Linked DNA regions of Homo sapiens: regions 1, 3 and 4 are each linked to region 2. The links come from fine-mapping of genetic effects on gene expression. A gene starts in region 2. Each other region holds a variant in brackets. All regions are shown on one strand. Distances are between the middles of the regions.

Region 1 (5,150 bases), 26 kb before region 2:
TACATCACGGGCCCTAGGAACGCCGCCAGGAGCAGCGTCCATGAGCTTGCCAAGTGTTCTCTGCTGGCTCTTTCCTGCCACTGCCAACACGAGGTTGGAATTTGGCAGAAAATTGTGATCTCCAGTCCGTGTGGTGATGCTGGTGGTGCAGGTTTTGTTTGTTCCTTTCGGGTGGTGACTTCGGCCTTTTGTTTGACCTTTGCCTTTTGACTTTGTGCCTCTTTTGATCCACTTTCAGCCTCCATGCCAGAAAACACCCACCTCTCCATCCAAGGCTGGTCAGGAACGTCCTTTGCAGGGTCGGGGTGGTGCGGGAGAGGCTCACTTTGCCTGGTTAGACCCAAGGGCTGCTACCTTTTCCTTGGACGGCTCATGTCAGGTCTTGCAGGATCAGTTTAATGGCCACAGAAAGGAAGCAGGACAGCAGGGCCCCTCTCACCCACAACTGGACCAGGTCCAGGATTCTAGCAGTCCTGGGGCACTGACCTTTGCCAGCTACCTGGGGGAGGGCTTGCCACTGGAAAACCTTTCAGGCCGCCCCCATCAGTGGGCTCCAAAGTAAATGGCTGAAAACAAAAATGTTTCACTTCCTAACAGTTTTCCTTTTTCCACTGTGTGACTGAAAGCTCCTATATCATTTTATATTTCTGAATCTATAAAACAAAACAAACAAGCCTGACAGTGTCTGGAGGAGCCAAAGGTGGCCTCCCTGTCCCCAAATATATTGGCTATATGAGAGTAATTTTACCCCTCTACGTACCTAAAGGCACCCAGTTCACTAGTCTGTGGGGTCCTGGAGCCTGTCTCTTCTTTCTGGAGGTTCAAACTGAATAGCAATAATTACGTTACCCAAAGCATGTGGAGGAAAAGTGAAACCAGCCACGGAGACGCTGGCCCACGGGCTCGGCCTGCGGTGTGGCCTGCTTTGCTCACCAGCGTCAGCCGCTCATTTCCTTCTCATGAAGTCCCATCTGGTCATGGGGACGAGGGCCGGGAGGGCACCGGGTAGCCTTTTCACACTTGGGGATTAGGGGAGTGAGAAAAGATTTGGGCCATGCATGCAAAGTCAAAGTTTAAAATTTTATCCTTTTCAAATAGATGATATAATATACCTATACATGATATAATATTTGTATATATGAAATCTCTCTATATTTGTTTAATTTGAGCCATTCAATCTAAACCAATGTACAGGTGTACAATGAAAAATTTAAATGCTTAGTTATTTTTCCCAACACAGTGTAAAGTCACCCTCCTCTGAGAGTGGGATGTGCAGAGTTTTGATGTTGCAGCTTTGCTCACTTCCTGGCAAGGGCAGGTCATGCCTCAATTTGTAATGGGAGTCTGGGGTAAGGGTGGGGGTTGAAAGTTGTTATCTTTAAATACATGTACAAATCGTTGTCAAAAGTAACGTTATTAAAATAGATTTATTATCCCTGAGCTTGGCATCTGTTCTTGCTTTAATAAACCTGCGGGGACATGGCCGTCAATCTCAAATGCACACCGGGATGGAGCCTGAAGGTCACCACCTGTGTAAAGCCAGGTCCCTGGCTGATCTCTCGCTTGCTTGTCTTTTGAGTTTTTAAAGCTCTTCTTTTTACATTCTCCTGGGTAGGGAATATACACAATAAATACTAGATTCAACTTACTTACTTACTTACTTACTTTACTTACTTACTTCCTTGGAAAATGCTCTCCATTTGTCGAGCACTAATCCACGTCTGTAAATCCCGCAAGGAGGACAATGGAAACCAGCCCCGTGTGCCATTTCTCAAAACCTTCGAGGGCAAAGTGATCCTCACTCCTCTCAGTATGGAAGCAACAACACAGCAAATCTATTGTCTCCACTTTTACCCAGAACCACCAGAAGACTTGCATTTCCCTGACCAATGACACCAGCCCAGCCAGGCTCTCACTGATTGATTTGATTGATTGATTGATTGATTGATAGAGAAAGCACGCCCTGCTGTGAGCTGGCACAGCTCGAGTTGTCAAAAAGACTTGGCGAATAAGGGTGGCTCTCTGAGGACAGGTTCCAGAGGTGCTCACTACGACGGGAGCTGACTTCTTCCAAGCCACCCGGGTACCAGGCAGCTGCCACACTACAGCACAGAGAGCCTTCTCCAAGGTGGTGCACAGCAGACCCTGCTCTGTAGCAGCAGCAGGAGGAAGCAAAAGAACTCACAATTGCAAACTCAATCTTTATTGCAGCTGAAATACTATTTTCGTTAAGTCTCGGACACTTAGACCCACTGATCCTGTTACTCTGCTTGTCTCTGGTGTGCAGGGAATCACTTTGCTGGATTAGAGGAAAGGTGCCGCCGTCTGTTTCCAAGACTTCTTTAAAAACTGCCTTGAAATGAAATTAGTTCATCTGCTTGCTTCCGTGTGGCAGCCTCCTGGCCCGCGGCTGTGCCAGGCACCAGTCCTAAGAGGCATCTATAGACTAGTGCTTATGTGGGA[G/C]CCCAAGCCTCGGCACAGCTCCATACCACCTATCCTGAGCTGCCTCCTGGGGGACCGTGCTCTTCAGCTTCTACCAGCAAGGAGGGCAGATACGGGTGCGTGCGTGGGGCAGAAGACACACAGCCTTCTGAGTTCAGGGTCTCCCAGATCTTCACTGGGCTCTGACCTTCTTGGCCTGTGGCTCCTCTGTGTGGGCCCGCTTCTGCTGAGGCTCCCCATCCTCCAGGCCGCCTGCCAGCTCCCTGGACAGGAGGGCCGCCCGCACCTGCCGCAGCTCCCGCTTCTCCCTGCGCTCCTCCATCTCCTCGATGTCGCCAGCAAACAGGGCTTTCAGTGGGGGAATCAGCTTGGGCATTGTTGGAAAGTCTCCAAAGCAGACCTAGAAGACACAATAGAAGACAAGGACATGTCTCAGAGGGGCAGGGGTGGGGGACAGGAGCTGGAAGGGATGCAGTCATGTGCTCACACAGCAGCGCCAACGCCCCTTCCTTGGCACAAGCCAACAGGCCACAGCTGAAATGGAAAAAAGAATGGCATGGAGGGAACCCTCTAAAGGGGCAGAGGCTCCCCAGGCCTGGCTAAGGGCCTCCGGAGAGGGAAGGGAGAGCAGTCCAGATGCTCTCAAAATCAAGCTCCTGAAAAACGAGGCCTGGCTCCGGCTCTGCCCCTTCATTCCGGAAGGCCAAGGGTCAGGCCTGGCTTTCCCACTCACAAGAGGCAACCACCTGTCTCACAGGTCTGTGCTGAGGCTCAAATGCCATGACTGTGTGAGCAGTCCAGGCCTAAAAGGATTCTCAGAAATTTCCAGTGAACTGAGACTGAAGACTAGTTGGCCCCTGCAGGAGGTGGGTCTCACCAGCAAACCCAGGGTGGTTCGACCTGGTTAGTGATGGGTAGATAACCTTTTCCCACGGTGGCCCCAAATAAGAAAGCAAACTCCAGCTGACCGTCCTACTCAGTGTGTAGAGTCCTGTCTCCCTGCCCCGTCCCCGCCCTGTGCTGTCCGTGTGACATACAGACCTTCATGTGGTCAAAGGCAACTCCCACTTTCTCGCTGAAGTTGGGGCTGAAGAGGGGGACCTTGGCATAGCGCTGGCTGAAGTGGTTCAGCATAATGAACTCCGCGTTCATCCGCATCCCCACGCTGATGGCTTGGGACGTTGTGCTGCAGGTGAAGGACAGAGCAGACTGAAGCTGAACTCAACTGCAAGACTGCAAAGCAGACAGTGGCACAGACCCTGGCCATCAACTGCCAGGGCACCCGGGGAAGCTGGTGGGTTTTCTTAACGGGCACCTCCGTAGCCAGCACAATCTCCCCTGAGGGCCAGAGCCTTCGCACACACCCCTGGATGAAGCCCACCCTCTGTGCTGGCTGCCAAATCTGTCCATGAGGGCACCCAAGAGAAACCACAGGGCCCACCTGGGGTAATGCACTCTTTCGTTGAAATTAGCAGCCAAAAATTCAGTCCCCCAGCCCCCGCCTTCCCCTGGCAATTCCCTGACATGGCTTATAGTTTATTCAGCCGATTTCTAGATGCTTTCAAAAAACTGTGCCTCACTCTAGAATCTTGCTTAGAAAATTCTGCAAAAATAAAGGCCAAGAGCCTGTGAGCACTGCCACAGGTCAAGGAAGCCCCCATAGCCCTTGATAGGAAGCAGGGCAGCCCCACATCAGTGGAGACAAACGACGGCTGCTCAGTGTCACGTAGTGGGGGAGGGAGAGGATGTGGGCGACAAGGACTGACCGGCCTTTGCTACCTGTGTGTCTTTTCCACTGCTTCCTCTTCCAAACCATCTTCCAGGGTGGCTTCATGTATCAGGAGGGTGGCATCTTTCCCTGGAGAAGCAGCACAAGGATCAGGGCAGAGTTCTCTGCGAGAGCGGCACACAGGCCTCAGTCACGTGCTGTTTCCTGGTCTCAACACTCAGCTCCCCTGGCCCTGGGTCTGCCTACTAGGATGACAACCAGAGACTCTGAGGGTGGGGACCTGAGTCTCCTGCCTCTGCTGACGTTTCCCTGCAAGCCCACCTGCATTCACCTCCAGCTACACAAACCCCAGAGCAACCTCAGGGTGGCTTGCTTCTTCCTCTACTCACCCATCCGGACCAGAGCCTCGCAGGGCATGGTGTCCCCGGAATAGACCACTTTCCAGCCAGAGGTGTGCACCAGCGCACAGCCAAACGCATGCTTGCAGTGCCGCACCAGACAGGTCTGAAACTGAAAGGGTGGGGCTGGAGGGCTCTGCAGCTCTGCTCCCCACCTCGCCCCCATGATGCCTGCGGCTGTGCCCCTTACCTCTTCCAAATCACATGTTCGCAACAGCGAACTGATCAATCTTTCCACTGCAGGACTGGAGATCTCAGCCCCTTCCTGAAGGCATTTGGCAGGAATCATACTGTAAAAAGACAAAACATTTAAAATGATAATAAACGTTTCTTGGACATCTGGAACCAAAGTTTAAGTCTTTGGCTGGAGAACCCCAAAATCATTCTTAGGAGAAAACATGAGTTAAATCATAGTCACTATGATGAGGAAACAGCAGTCAAATATAAAGAGCCAAACCAAAGCCTCTAGGCCACTGGGAGAAACCCAGCAGGTGAATGCTGCCTCCGGCTCAGGCAGCACGGGCCACGGATGGCTCCAGCAGAGGGGACTCCTTCCCCTTGGGGTGAGGATGGTGCCACCT
Region 2 (5,147 bases):
CTGGCACCCTAAGTGCCTCACCCTAGTCTCAGCCCTGAGAAGGGAGACTGGTCTAACACTTCACTCCTTCCGGTCCATGCCACCAAGCCCACACAATTTGGCTGCAACACAATCCTGACCTTCCGGTTGATAGACATAAATGACAGGGTAATCTGGACAGTGGGTATGTGTGTGGCTGCCAATGTGCCAATGGCGTCTGCGGTAAACATATTAACTGTAATCACCACTGCTAGACTCTCCAGTTTACTGCCACAAATCTCTGTCCCCGCAACGCAAGAAACTAAGTGGATGGTAACACTTAAGAGGTGGTATCCATATTAAAATCTGTTCTCCTGAGTCACAGCTTTTAATGCTCTGTGCTGCTGCTGACTGGGCTGGTATAAAAAGAATTCCAGGCCAGGTGCGGTGGCTCATGCCTGTAATCCCAGCACTCTGGGAGGCCGAGACAGGAGGATCGCAGAAGTTTGAGACCAGCCTGGGCAACATAGCAAAACCCCGTCGCTACAAAACATACAAAAAAAATTAGCCAGGTGTGATGGGGCACACGTGTGGTCCCAGCTATTTGGGAGGCTGAGGTGAGGGGATCACCTGAGCCCAGAAGGCAAAGGTTGCAGTGAGCCAAGATCACGCCACTGACAAAAAAAAAAAAAAAAAAAAAAGTAGCTGCCCACCCCAGACTTGGAAAAATGGTAAAGCCGGTTAAAATCCCAGAGACTTCCCACCAGCCTCTGACACTGCAAAGAATATACTCACCACTTAAGCCCCCAACATTAGACCAGTGCATTCGTGTCAGGAATATGTTGTCCAGGCGAGCAACCTTTAACCTAAGAATGAAAAAACATTTAAACAGGATAACATGAACAGAACAAGGACCACTTTTGCTATAAAAAACAACTGGCCTCTCATTTCGGCTTTCAAGCCCCGTAATCAACTCCCCCTCCGAAAGCAAGAGACTGACTCACTTGTGCTCCTGCATGAGTCTCTGAACGCCTTCTCCACAGTTGAAGAGATACCTACAAGACAAACATTACACAAGACATTCAGAAGGTTTTATTCTGTAAACTCTCTGACACCAATTAGATGTTTTATTGTAGACTCTGGAAAAAAAAAAAAGAAAAAAAAATTAAAAGTCCACGTTGGACTACCGAGCCACATTTATGCTGGTGGGTTTTGAGCCCTCCTTAGCAGAGGTGGAGAGGAGTGGGGGCCTGTGTGTGTGGGTGCTAGGACAAAATGAGTCCTTTCTCCACCACCGGCTACACACCAGATCTGTCCACCCCACACGCTAACAACGACACACTGGCCTTGGGGTGCACGGAAGAGGGTGGAGCTCCGAAAGTGCTGACAGCCAGGCCGGGGCCCAAGGGTTGGGAAAAGGACGCTCAGACCCAGGCCTGAAGTTCTTCACAGATCCGCAGAAATCACATGGATGCAAAGAATCTCGGATTTCCCACCCACCATAACTCCACGAACCCCCGCAACAGTGAACCACATGTGTGAAGCAGGGAAGCCGAAGCCCTGGGAGGTGCCCCGATGCTCAGAGGCTGCGCCGCACTGAGGGCCCAGCGGGACGGGGCGTGGCTCGTTGACTGACCGGTTGAACTCGGAGAAGACGTAGAGCGCGGCGCCCGAGTCCCGGCTACCCGCTGCCACCACCTGCAGGTACACGGTGTTTGGGCCGCCGGAGCACCCCGACGGTCCGCGCTTCTCTCGCGTGCGCAGGTGCCGCAGCGGGTCCTTGCGCGGCCGCTCGCGGCGGGCGGGTGCCTGCGATATGGTGCGTCCCTGCGACATGGTGCGTCCGGCCGCGGACCGCAGCAGCGAGCAAAGCGCCCACATGCGCCCGTCTCCACCAAAACTGAGAAAGCCGCCGGTCACCTACGCCCGCGTTTCCCGTGCACCACCTAGCCGCTCCGCATGGCGGATCCAGCCAATCAGCGCGCCGTGCACCGAGCTTCCCGCCTACGCGAGGCTGCTCATCCAATAGAAAGGAGCTTTACCGCTCGGGACTTGTCAATTGACAGTGGCCATAGAGTAGAGGAATACTAGAGCGTCTCAAGCGGCCCCGCCCCTAGTTCTGTTCCGGTTTGCCGGCCGCAATTTTTTCCGGAAGCTGTTTTTCTCCTGGGGCGGGACTTCCGGAAGCACAGTGCCAGGAAAAGCCTTCCTGGGGAAGGCGGGACCTAGGAGTTTGGAGTTTCGCTAAAACGCTCCTGTTCTCACCAGATAAGAGCTGTGTCCTCCGGGCACGTCAGTCCCTCAGAGCTTGAGTTAGAGGTGGTTGTAGTGGTTGTGAGGATTAAATGTGAGGAAATCAATTGTATTGAGCATTAGCATAAGCGCTTTGCTAATTTTATTTCCATTGTAATTCGTATGCATACATGTTAGAACTTGATCATTTTTACGTGGTGTCCCGAGCTTGTAGTCCCAGCTACTTGGGAGGCTGAGGCAGGAGAATCGCTTAAGCGCGGAGGCGGAGGTTGCGGTGAGTCGAAATCGCGCCACTGCACTCCAGCCTGGGTGACACCTCGAGACCCTGTCTCAAAACAAAACAAAACAAAACAAAAATTGTAGTGTTTTTTGGAAAGAAAAGCAAGAATAGAGGACAAGCTCTAAAGCAAGAGTCTTGGCTCATTTGTTAGCTGCGTGATCTTGACCTCTCAGAGCCTCAGCTTTCTTATGTGTAAAATGTAATAACAGCAATAACAGTATCTCCTACTTCAGAATATAGAATTCAGTCACCTGATAATATATCAATAGACCTTTGAGTGGCACTGTCACAGAAGAGGCACCCAGTAAATGATAGAAAATTAATACAAAATGTTTCAACTCCTAGACAATATAGCTGACCAGGGACATCACAGAGGTAGATGTCCCAATACCAGCTTTTTGAAAAAAACACCCAGTCCCCTCTTATGTAGCTAATGAGGATTTCTCACTGAAAGGGATATCAGTTAAAGCCGCTAGAAATACAGGGAGCTCCCTTAAAAGAGGAAGATAATTTACCTGGAAGCTCCACTCAAATATGATTTTTTAAAGATAATTTACCTGGAAGCTCCACTGACATATGATTTTTTTAAATAAATACTGAAAGATGTCACTTTTATTCAGGAAGTAAGGGAGATTCAAGTCATGTAGATTCCTACTCGAAAATCTTGACACCTGACTTTCCAGGATCACATTTTCATATGGAGACCAGTTTCCTCTTGGTTTCTTCAGTTAAGTCAAAACTACACGTTCCTCTTTCCCCATATATTTTTGCTCATTAGTGTATTTCTTGAGCTGTTTTCATTCAAATATGAAATTTTTTATGGAAGATTATCACCCACGGTGTGAAAACGTTTTGTACTTGAAATAACCATCCCAGTGAGGGTCAGGAAAACACTTCAGATCTACTTTACACAGTTAGAGGGCGTTACAAACTGAAAAGATTATCATACCACCATCTCCATAAGTATTTGAAATAAAAATGATAGTTTTTAAAAGTTGCTTAAAGCCTGGGCACCGTGGCACATATCTGTAATCCCAGCACTTTGGGAGGCCAAGGCGGGAGAATAGCTTCAGGCTAGTAGTTCAAAACCTGCTCTGTGGCCAGGCATGGTGGCTTATGCCTGTAATCCCAGCACTTTGGGAGGCCGAGGCAGGTGGATCACCTGAGGTCAGGAGTTCGAGACCAGCCTGGCCAACATGATGAAACCCCGTCTCTACTAAAAACACAAAAATTAGCCGGGAGTGGTTGCATGGGCCTGTAATCCCAGCTACTGGGGAGGTTGAGGCAGGAGAATCACTTGAACCCCAGAGACAGAGGTTGCAGTGAGCCAAGATCACACCATTGCACTCCAGCCTGGGTGACAGAGGGAGATTCCATCTCAAAAACAAACAAACAAACCAGCTCTGGCAACAAAGCGAGACCTCATCTCTACCAAAAAATACTAAAAAATTTAAAAATAAGTAAAAATTAGCTGGACATGGTGGCACACACCTGTTGTCCCAGCTACTCTGAAGGCTGAGACAGGAGGATCACATGAACCCAGGGGTTTGAGGCTGCAGTGAGCTATGATCATACCACTTTACTCCAGCCTGGCTGACAGAGTGAGACACTCTCTACAAAAAAAAAAAAAAAAAAAAAAGAAAAAGAAAATTAATTCATTAAAACTACTTTTAAAAAGTGTAGTGCAATAAATAAAATACTGATTTTTTTCCTGTGATGACTGCTTTGATCCTTTTAAAAAATATATCAAATTTCACAAACAAAAATACATTGGTTCCTCTATTTTATTGGTGCCCTATGTGCATATCTATCTGTTGGGTAATCTCAAACTACTTATCTCAAAATTATAGGAGGAATCACTTTTGGTCATCGACTTATATAAAATTCTGAGGGCTGGATGCTATTTAGGTTGTTTCTAGGGCCCAGTGTACTTTCTGCACTTATGCTTTGGGTCATATTTTTATTCCTGGTATATGAAGACAATAGCTAGTACTTCTTCAATCTGAGGTTATACTGGAATGTAAATTTCATGAGCCTGGGATTTGTCTATCTGGTCCTCTGCTGTATCATTAGCTCCTAGGACAGAGTCTGGCTTGTGGCAGACAATAAATACTAGGAAATTAGAAGCAAGCCAGTAGCTTAAATGAGGTTTTCAGTTTACAACTAAGCAGGGCCTAAAATTGAATCAAGACAACAATGTATGTGTTTTCTGAAGGGGATTGGTGTGACTGGTACCTCCAAAAGGATAGTTCAGAGAGTCTGAAACAGAAAAGTGTCTCTGGACTTGCTGGAGTAGAGGCAGCCTGACCATCGGGACAGCAGAGAAAGTGGAAATCGAGGCGACAGACTTTCAGAAGTCAGTGATATTAACAATTAATATAATACAGCCACTTCCTCTTGCTTTGAGTCTCTTTTTGTTATCCATTTTGTATATGGGCAGCTTGTGGCTTGAAATCACTTTCAGTCCTTTTGTTGGTCACGGTTGTGTTTAGTAAGAATAGCCTGTCTCTGCTCCTTGCAGTGGCTGCTGGGTGGCTCAATGGGAGTGGAACCTCACACTCACAGGTGTGGGTCCTGGGTACTGGCCCTGCTGGGGGTGCTTTGGTTCATTTCCCATTGCCTCTCCATCCATGTAGACTGTCCACATTCAGTAGTT
Region 3 (5,150 bases), 110 kb after region 2:
TGGAATTTTTTTATTTATTAAAATAAAAAAGCATTTTTCTTTATTAAAATAAAATATGTAGCATTTGTTTAGGGTTTTAAAAATTGTCTCTATCCATGGTTATAAATGGCTATAATATTCCTGTTTTCAGACTCTGACTTGTGTACTTCTGTTTTTCTCTTTTTGATTCATTCAACATTACTTCTGTTTTTCTTCAGTTTATTGACACTTGCCTTTATCCTTATTCATTTCTCTTTTTACTGGATATATGTATACATGTGTATATTTTTAGGCCTCTCACATGAAAAGATTTTAGTACTTGTATTTCCATTTTTCCTTTTGATAATGAAAGGCATTTAAGAATAATTTCTCTAACCTTAAACGCTATTGTTATTTCCTAAAGAGTATGTAATTATACGTTTAAAATTTTTTAATTTCAAAATATTTTTGAATTTATAGAAAATTGCAGGCCGGGCATAGTGGCTCACGCCTGTAATCCCAGCACTTTGGGAGGCCGAGTCTGGCGGCTCACCTGTGGTTGGGAGTTCGAGACCAGCCTGACCAACATGGAGAAACCCCGTCTCTACTAAAAATACAAAATTAGCCAGGCATGGTGGTGCATGCCTGTAATTCCAGCTACTCGGGAGGCTGAGGTAGGAGAATTGCTTGAACCCGGGAGACGGAGGTTGCGGTGAGCCAAGATTGTGCCATTGCACTCCAGCCTGGGCAACAAGAGCGAAATTGTGTCTCAAAAAAAAAAAAAAAAAATACACAAAGTAGATGTTTAAAAAAAAAAAAAAAAAGAAAGAAAGAAAATTGCAAAAATAGAGAATCCCCCAACTTTTTTTTTTTTTAGGCAGAGTCTTGCAGTGTTGCCCAAGCTGGAGTGCAGTGGTGTGATCTCTGCTCACTGCAACCTCTGACTTGTGGGTTCAAGCGATTCTTCTGCCTCAGCCTCCCGAGTAGCTGGGGTTACAGGCACCTGCCACCACCGGCTAATTTTTGTATTTTTAATAGAGACAGGGTTTCACCATTTTGGCCAGGTTGGTCTGCAACTCCTGACCTCAAGTGATCCACCCACCTCAGCTTCCAAAAATGCTGGGATTACAGGTGTGAGCCACCACGACTGGCCAGTACCCCAACTTTTTAAATGTAATAGTTTGAGATGTGTTGGAGATATGTGAAACAGGCCTGATTTATACATTGAAAATATGAAACGTGAATCTTTTCAGAAAAATTTCTATAATCATGATACAGTTATTAAAGCTAGGAAATTAACATTGGTACACTAACACTAAGTAAACTACAAACTTTAATCAATTTTTTTCAGTCATGTTTTCCAATCCAGGGCACCATATTGCATTTAGGTGTCAAGACTCCTTGACCAAACTATATTGTTCCTCATTCTTTTTTTTTTTTAATTTTGAGACTTTGATGCGTTTGAAAACTACCCATCAGTTAGTTTGTAAAGTGTTGTTCCATTTGGATTTGTCTGATGTTTTCTCATGATTAGATTGAGGTAATGAATTTTTGGCAGGAATGCTGCAGAGGTGATGCGCATTTTCAGAGTACATTACATCAGAAGGCACATGATATTAATGTGTCTTATTACTGGTGATGTTTATTTTCACCACTTGGTTGAGGTCTACTTGAGTTTCTTCAAAATAAACTTACCATCTTCCCTTTTGTCATATATATCATGGGATATAACTGTAGAGTATTCAAATATCCTATTTCCCCTCAAACTTTTACCAATTCATTTTATTATGCATTAATGGATTTTGTCTATAATTACTATTGGTTACTTTCCATCTTCAAACATCCTATCTCCCCCCAAACTTTTGCCAATTAATTTTATGATGCATTAGTGGATTTCATCTCTAATTATTACTGTTGGTTATTTTCCATCTTCCTCGTTTCTTTTGCATTTATTAATTGGAATTCTCCTGTAAAAGAATAGCCGTCCCTTCTCTGCCATTGACTTATTTATTCAATTATTTACTTATACCTGTATGGTCTCATGGATATTGATTTTAATAGATTGATTACAATCTAATACTATTGTTGTTTTCTTTGTTGTTCAATTGGTTCCAGTTTGGG[A/T]TACTAGGTGCTTTCTCAGATTGGCTCCTATGTCCTTTTGACAAGCCCCCATCCTTGCTTCAGCACTTTCTTACTTTCTAGCCTCACAAGATGTCACAGGTTCATCATGTATTTTTCTTGTCTCAACCCAGGAATTAGCTACTTCTCCAAGAAGCCCTGTCACCTTTTATTAAAGAATGGTATTTAGAAACTAAGGTCTAGGCACAGGATGTGCTCATTGTTACTGAGATTTCATTGCTTCTAGGCTCGCTCCATGGAAAGAGCTTGAGAATACTACATGAATATGTATTAACCCATGTAGACACAGAAACCTGTACCTATCAATCTACTTACATAGCTATTAAAAAACACCCTATGAGTTCATTTTGATACCTTTAATTCAAATGCCACACCACAGGACTGGGCACAGTGGCTCACCCCTGTAATCCCTTTGGGAGGCCAAGGTGGGCAGATCACCTCAGGTCAGTAGTTCAAGACCAGCCTGGCCAACATGGTGAAGCCCTGTCTCTACAAAAAAAAAAACACAAAAATTAGCCAGGCGTGGTGGAGTGTGCCTGTAGTCCCAGCTACTCAGGAGCCTGAGGCAGGAGAATTGTTTGAACCTGGGAGGCAGAGGTTACAGTGAACTGAGATTGTGCCTAATTATTCTCATATATTTCTTTTTTCTTCACCCCTGAAGAGTTAGTGATGGTGACAACTGCAGCTGTGGGTTTGACGGCTATAGCAATGGTAGTGCAGGCAGTCATTGTTTGTTTGTTTTTTTTTGTTTATGAAATGATTGAAGGAACTTACAATATTGTTCCTGAAGGGGTGAGAACTTGGGGTAGTGACAGTTGCCTTCGACTCTATGATGTGCTTTATATGTAGAGAAACTGCTGGACTTTTCTGTTTTGCTCTAAACTTTTGAATAATAGGCAGTGGGCATTGAAAGGCAGGTTGATGTAGGGTGTGGTGGTTCACACCTATAATCCCAGCACTTTGGGAGGCTGAGGCGGGCGGATCACAAGGTCAGGAGTTCGAGACCAGCCTGGCCAATATGGTCAAACCCCGTCTCTACTAAAATTACAAGTAATTAGCCAGGCGTGGTGTTGGGTGCCTGTGATCCCAGCTACCGAGGAGGCTGAAGCAGGAGAATCACTTGAACCTGGGAGACGGAGATTACAGTGAGCTGAGATCTCGCCACTGCACTCCAGCCTGGGCTACAGGGCGAGAGGCAGTCTCAAAAAAAAAAAAAAAAAAAAAAAGGCAGGTTGATAACAGCTTAATATGTGGAAGAATTTCTAACAAGTGTAAGTGGCCAGCGGTGGAATGAGCTTTCAGTGAGGAAATGGGTTCAGTGTTAGATGTAGGTAGATAAAGAGAGTCACTTGCCAATGGTGACATAGAAAGTAACCTATATGGGGCAGGAAACTGGGAGTGAGAGTGATCTCTGTGATCCTGTTGGACACAAAGATTCTCATAGTCTTATATATAGTCCTACATAAATTGTTACAAAGTGAAAAACATTATTGGGAGTTCAGTCTTCTGAGCCACAGGCCACCTCTTACCTCTTTTAGAGTGACGTCATGCTTAAGAGCAGGGGCTACATAATCAGCTTGCCATGGGCTACATCCTGGCTCTGCCTCCCGCTAGCTCTGTTGAACACGAACAGATCACTTACCGCTTTGTTGTGTGAGTTAAAGGAGATAATGCATGTAGGGTGGAGTGTCTGCCTGGTGCATAGTGAGGGCACTATTCATCGCAGCAATTGTTATAACAAGTTCCCTCCCTCAACTGCCTTAATCTCTTTGCCTTCATTTTAGCATGTTCTATTGTTTTCATTTTGTATTGCCTGACAGTCCTCGCTACATTGGGGAGGACGTGATATCTTGGTTCTTTTGTCCAGAGACTTGCTGCGTATCTTGGAGCTCCTTTTGGGGAGACCCATCCCTTAGGCACATTCTGACTTACTGTAGTCTTACTTTTTCAGCTCTGCTACATGCAATATTATGTTCTCCAAAATTGTGCAGGTAGGAAATCCTTCATTCTTTCCTTCACCTTTGTAGGTAATGAAGGAGCCAAAATTCTCTCACCATCGTGAATATCTACCAAGAGTTTTCACAATGCTGCTTGACATTGTTGTCTGCTCTGGGAACCAGATAAACAAGTTTATTGCACTTCAGCCTAAATAACCTAAGTCATGTGTTCATGATCTTGTCTTGGGCCTAGCTTTGGTATTAGTGTTGGCTTAATAACTGAAGAAGACATTTTGTTTAAATTCTCACTTTGATAAAATTTTGGAACCAAGGGGATTTTTTTTTTTCAAAGCAAAATTTTACAGGCTCTCGTGCCTTGCTCCTTAGAGCTCCATCCGGTCTGCAGCCGCGCCTCTTCATTTACCACCAGTAAAAGCCTGGTCTCGGGGTGGGCCACACAGTCTGTTTCCACTTTCTGCACTTTGGCTGACACCTAAAGGGGAAAGTTTCCTAAAACCATGACTTGGTGAGATATCCTAGCTGCCACTTCCAAGGGAGTGTTTCATAATATTGTCCAATCACCTGGTGTCTGGTATAAGAGGGCCAACACAAGTGTCTTCAGGCTTTGTCTTTCAGAACCAATAATTCCATGAAATGCGAAAGGAAAGGTTGATTTCTGCAAGTCCCTGCTTTCAAGTTTCACTGCAAACCATTTGCACAGGAAGTCAAAAACATCTGTATTGGAAGGGTTTGGTCATTTTCTGAAAAATTCTATCTTTTCTTTAATCAAACATACCACATTTTCTTCCGCTTGGCAGGACTAAAGCAATCTGGAAAACTGGAATTGTAGGATCTTAGAGCTGGACAGAACCTTATGAATCATCCAGTCTCATCTTTCCTCAGTGCAGGAATTTCCTTAGAAACATTACAAATGGCTCTAAATTCTTTCCTGGGTTGAGGTCTCAGTGCTTCCTAAGACAGACCATCTAATTGTAGGCTGATTTTTATTGTTAGATACCTCTTTCTTTTTGGCTGTGGCAAAATGTCACTAATAACTTTCTAGTCATTCATAAGGACGGGCAAAGATTTCATGACAAAGAGACCAAAAGCAATCAC
Region 4 (5,150 bases), 280 kb before region 2:
TTGACAGGTGCCAGGCAGGGCTCAGGGAAGAACTGCAAAGCTCATTCCTCACCCCCCATGGAGAGATCATGGGCAGCCCTGGCTCCTTTTTGTCAGAGTTGAAACAGAGGAATATAGGAGAGAAAGAGAAAATAATTTTTCCCTTTACAGACTCTACCTCTGGTAAAGGTTTCTTATGACTTTATACACATGCATGCGCACGCACACACAAACACACACACAGACTCACATATGTATACACACAAAACCACATATACATATACATGCCTGTGTGCACACATGTGCACACACACACACGTATACACCTAACATGCACACACACATATATACACACATGCTCATAAGCACGCATGCACGTACACACATACATGCACATATAAACACTCAGACACACACTTGGAGATACACACACACACTTCCAAACACACACTTTCCCTTTTTCTGCTAACATCCTTTTTATCTACCTTGTTCATTGTCCTACTTTCCCCCCAAATTCCTACACTCACTCTTCCCTGCTGCTCTTTTTCAATTGCATTATCAAGACAGGTGGACCTTGTCACACACAGGTGGAACGCCCACACACCGAGACCAGATGTCCCAGTTTGCCTAGAACAGACCAGTTTTATACCTGTCTTTTGGAATCATTACTTAGAATGATTCCCTTTCTCTCTCAAAAGTGTTCTCAGCTGGATGATAAGTTTATATATATATATGTATATATGTATATACACATAAACATATTTATATGTGTATACACATGTACATATATATACACACACACATATATACACACATATACGTATGTGACTCCTCCCACTGAGGGAGTAGGCTGATATTTACTTGGGTGAGAAGCTAGGATGAAAGCAGCAGAGGTATATATACGGACTCTAACATTTCTGTGTCACACAACTTATTCCTGTATCTTCCTAATATCGGTAACATTTGGATTTCAGGATCTTGCTTCTGGCTCAGAAAATGACAGAAATGACTCAGCCTCACAGCCCAGCCACCAGTCAGATGCGGGGAAGCAGGGGCTTGGCCCCCCCAGCACCCCCATAGCCGTGCATGCTGCTGTAAAGGTACGGACACATCAGCCTCCAAGCCCTGCCTGAGCGCTCGGCTCACAGAGCCGACTTGGAGCAGAACTTTCTGAGTTAGGTCTGACAACACGAGGAGAGTTACACGGAGGACCCAGGCAGAGGTTCAGCTCACTAGGAGGGTCACAAAACAGGAGATGAGAAATGGGTCACCATCCTTGCAGCACAGCAGAAGTCACCTCTGCCACGGAGAAGGCTGTGGGTTTGCATTTCTTTGGAATCACAGTCCAGCCAGCACGTTCCCCACTTAAAAGATTTCATAAGCTCACCTTTGAGGTAGACACAGCTGATTGTAAGGCAGGATTTGCAAGTTTCATAAAATAGGTATGCAGCAGTTGGATTTTATGCAAGGGAAGTAGCCCTGAAAAGCTTGCATAACGTAAAACTTACATCATTCAAGCCAGTCTTCCTATGGAAATAACCACGGGGTTTCATTCATAGTAGGCAGGTAGCTAGAATCATTATAGCAAATGTTTAGTTTTCTCAGCATTATATCTTTTTGTTAATTTTTATTTTTATTTCAATAGTTTTGGGGGTGCAGGTGGTTTTTGGTTACACAGAGAAGTTCTTTAGTGGTGATTTTTTTTCTTTTTCTTTTTTCTTTTTTGAGACAGAGTCTCTCTCTGTTGCCCAGGTTGGAATACAGTGGCGCGATCTCAGCTCACTGCAACCTCCGCCTCCCAGGTTCAAGTGATTCTCCTGCCTCAGCCTCCCGAGTATCTGGGACTACAGGCTCCCGCCACCATGCCCGGCTAATTTTTTGTGTTTTTCATAGAGATGGGGTTTCACTGTGTTAGCCAGGATGGTCTTCATCTCCTGACCTCATGATCCACCTGCCTTGGCCTTCCAAAGTGCTGGGATTACAGGCGTGAGCCACTGCGCCCGGCCCTTTAGTGGCGATTTCGGAGATTGTAGTGCACCCGTCACCTGAGCAGTGTACACTGTACACAATACGGAATCTTTTATCCCTCACCCCACTCCCAATCTTCCCCCAATCCCCAAATTCCATTACATAATTCTTACGCCTCTGCATCCTCATAGCTTAGTTCCCACTTATAAGTGAGAACACATGATACTTGGTTTTCCATTCCTGAGTTACTTCACTTAGAATAATGGCCTGCAGCTCCATCCAAGTGGCTGCAAAAGACATTATTTCATTCCTTTTTATGGCTGAGTAGCATTCCATGTTGTATATGTACCACATTTTCTTTATCCACTTGTTGGTTGATGGGCACTTCGGTTGGGTCCATATCTTTGCACTTGCGACTCGTGCTTCTATAAACACCAGCATCGCATCTCACAGTACACAGGCTGCTCTCTCTTCAGTTAATTGCCTGGTAATCATGTGGCCTTCTTTATAATGTTTTATCCCAAATAACTTCCCTTTGTGTTCCTTTTTTTTTTCTTTTGAGATGGAGTTTCACTCTTGTTGCCCAGGCTGGAGTGCAGTGGCGTGATCTCAGCTCGTCGCAACCTCCGCCTCCCAGGTTCAAGTGATTCTCCTGCCTCAGCCTCCCCAGTAGCTGGGAGTATAGGTGCACACCACCATGCCTGGCAAATTTTGTATTTTTAGTAAAGACGGGGTTTCTCCATGTTGGTCAGGCTGATCTTGAACTCCTGACCTCAGGTAATCCACCTGCCTCAGCCTCCCAGAGTGCTGGGATTACAGGCGTAAGCCACCGTGCCTGGCCTATACCCAAATAACTTCCAACTGATTTGGGAACACGTTTTCTCAGCTCGAGTGCCACCACTTAATGAATGTTAAA[A/G]TGACTCTTACGGGACTTAAAAAAGATTGTAAATTGAAGTAAAAATCAATGATATAGTAACAGTTTTATGGTCTAATGGATGATAGACACTTCAGTTTGCCAATAAGGCTCCCCCACCAAACCACAAGAGCTTAAACCCAGCTGACAATTCACTCAGCTCAACAGGTCGGAAATTATGTGACTATCAATGCATTTTGTTCATTGCAGGGGAAGGAGGAGGAGATGAGTCCCGTTATTTCTAAAGCTGAGTATAAAAAGAAATGTTATTCATATTTCTATCACAGTATTTAAATTTTGCATAATTTAAGTTAGCAGTGGAGCATGGTGGCTCACGCCTGTAATCCCAGCACTTTGGGAGGCCGAGGCGGGCAGATCACCTGAGGTCAGGAGTTCGAGACCAGCCTGGCCAATATGGTGAAACCCCGTCTCTACCAAAAAATACAAAAATTAGCCGGACGTGGTGGCGTGTGCCTGTAATCCCAGCTACTCAGGAGGCTGAGGCAGGATAATCGCTTGAACCCAGGAGGGGGTGGTGGCAGTGAGCCGAGATCGCAGTCACTGCACTCTAGCCTGGTCGACAGAGCGAGACTCTGTATATATATATAAAAAAAAAAAAAATTAGCAAAGCCTTCAACCTCACTGTAGTAGAAAGTATGATAGAAGCCCAGGAGATGAACAGATCGCTTTCTGTGAAAAAGGCGATTCTTACAGACACCCAGCTGGTCCCGGCAGGCTGGTTGTTTGTAGAAGAGCCATCATTTCTTCTGCTTGGTCAACAAACACAAAAACCTTAGTGTCCCCTGGGCTCAAAAAGAGAATAGTAATAGTAGCCTTTACCCCAGACTATCCAGAGTAAATGGTCCGATTTCAGTATCTTCTGGAATGTGCTAAGGCAACATAGAGAAAAAAAGCTCCTGGACCTCCGACTTAGCTGCGGGACCCTGCCAGGGCTGCAGCTCCCATCCTCCCCAGACAAGGCAAGCCTCAGAATGAGGCGACAACAGCAGCTGGTCTGGAGCAGGCCAGGGCAGAGCTGGTTTCGGGAGCCCTGCAGAAACTCTCCAAGGACAGAAGACTGATTAACTAACTAGAATGCTAATCGATTAGTAAGCAGAGAGAAACGGAGCCACCAAACACACCCAACTACTTGTGTTCATTATTCATTAGTCGCCAGGAAGAAGTCTCTTTGGAAAACAAAAGAGCCTTTGGGGGTGCATTGCGCTGAGTCCAAGTGAGTTGTAAGCTCCTTTGGATAAGGTCACATTCAGATGTGTAGTTTGTGGTTGAAGTGGGGAACCTGCCAAGTCAGAATATGCTTGCCAGCTGTTCAGGAGCCCCCTCTTCTGGACACCGGTGGAAACACACTTTCCTTCCAATGTTCCCCCAAATCCTAGCTCACTCGTGGTCATGACATCCGTGTTCTTCATTTCAACCTTCTGTAATAAAGTCAGGGTTTGAAAATTATTTTTTTTTTTTGAGGCGGAGTCTCGCTCTATCACCCAGGCTGGAGTGTAGTGGCGCAATCTCGGCTTACTGCAACCTCCACCTCCTGGGTTCAAGCTATTCTACTGCCTCACCCTCCCGAGAAGCTGAGACTACAGGCATCTACCACCAAGCCCAGCTAATTTTTTGTATTTTTACCAGAGACAGGGTTTCACCATGTTGGCCAGGCTGGTCTCGAACTCCTGACCTCAAGTGATGCGCCCACCTCCGCCTCCCAAAGTGCTGGGATTACAGGCATGAGCCACCGCGCCCGGCCTGAAAATTACTTTTTTTTAACCTGATAACAGGATGGACCCATTCCTTCCTAATATACAAAGGTCTTTTATTTCAGGAGCAGGTTATAGACATAATTACCTGTTCATTGACTACCTGTTATTATTTCAATATTATCTTTTATAGTCTTTATATTGATTAGTGAGAGAAAAAGTAAAGAATATTTTCTCCAACTTGCAGGTGAGGAAACTGAGATGTATTAAAGTTAAGTAATTGTACCACTTTCAAAAATTTGTCTTATCTTCCAAGACTATACCCTTAACTTCCTGATTCAGTGTGTCCAAATCATGCAATACATGCTTTGGGTTCCAACTCTGGGAAGTGTTCCAGTTAGGTGGATAACCCTTCCCATAATAAGTAAAGTGTCCTTATTTCAAAAGGTGTTACTTCCTGATCTTTCATCGGTATTTGGCAGGCAGGCGAGAGGGTGTTCAGCAGGCAGATAGGCAAGGTTTATCTTACTTTCAGCTCAAAGCAACAAATAACCACATTCTAGATTTTCAAAGAAAAT

Which allele goes with the higher level. Alleles are on the strand shown, and positions count from the first base shown. SD is a standard deviation of normalised expression in the study named. Not every link is listed here.
For the expression in CD4 T cells of the gene that starts at base 1,919 in region 2, allele G in region 4 goes with a higher level than allele A (large effect, 1.8 SD a copy in Kasela 2017).

Evidence for each region. PIP is the estimated chance that this variant, and not a neighbour inherited with it, causes the effect.
Region 1: its variant is fine-mapped to the expression of ELAC2 in whole blood (TOPMed, PIP above 0.99). The same link has a PIP of 0.9 or more in blood mononuclear cells, cerebellum, esophagus mucosa, gastroesophageal junction, left ventricle and neural progenitor cells.
Region 3: its variant is fine-mapped to the expression of ELAC2 in skeletal muscle (FUSION, PIP 0.95). The same link has a PIP of 0.9 or more in subcutaneous fat.
Region 4: its variant is fine-mapped to the expression of ELAC2 in CD4 T cells (Kasela 2017, PIP 0.95).

Annotation. Positions count from the first base shown.
Region 1 is chr17:12,990,204-12,995,353 of GRCh38, forward strand. It overlaps ARHGAP44 (Rho GTPase activating protein 44), which reads left to right. Exons shown (of 21, transcript NM_014859.6): 21 at 1-1,440. ELAC2 (elaC ribonuclease Z 2) reads right to left here. Exons shown (of 24, transcript NM_018127.7): 20 at 4,760-4,859; 21 at 4,561-4,681; 22 at 4,222-4,300; 23 at 3,484-3,628; 24 at 1,409-2,842. The coding sequence ends at 2,615. Among named protein-coding and RNA genes, the nearest start is that of ELAC2, 25 kb to the right of the region's middle. The variant G/C (reference allele first, on the strand shown) is at 2,464.
Region 2 is chr17:13,016,109-13,021,255 of GRCh38, forward strand. It overlaps ELAC2 (elaC ribonuclease Z 2), which reads right to left and starts at 1,919. Exons shown (of 24, transcript NM_018127.7): 1 at 1,595-1,919; 2 at 963-1,013; 3 at 754-824. The coding sequence starts at 1,839. RefSeq lists enhancers at 1,235-1,735, 1,247-1,356, 1,377-1,436 and a silencer at 1,957-2,036.
Region 3 is chr17:13,124,683-13,129,832 of GRCh38, forward strand. No RefSeq gene overlaps it. Among named protein-coding and RNA genes, the nearest start is that of ELAC2, 110 kb to the left of the region's middle. The variant A/T (reference allele first, on the strand shown) is at 2,080.
Region 4 is chr17:12,738,250-12,743,399 of GRCh38, forward strand. MYOCD (myocardin) reads left to right here. Exons shown (of 14, transcript NM_001146312.3): 7 at 954-1,079. Among named protein-coding and RNA genes, the nearest start is that of MYOCD-AS1, 35 kb to the left of the region's middle. The variant A/G (reference allele first, on the strand shown) is at 2,864.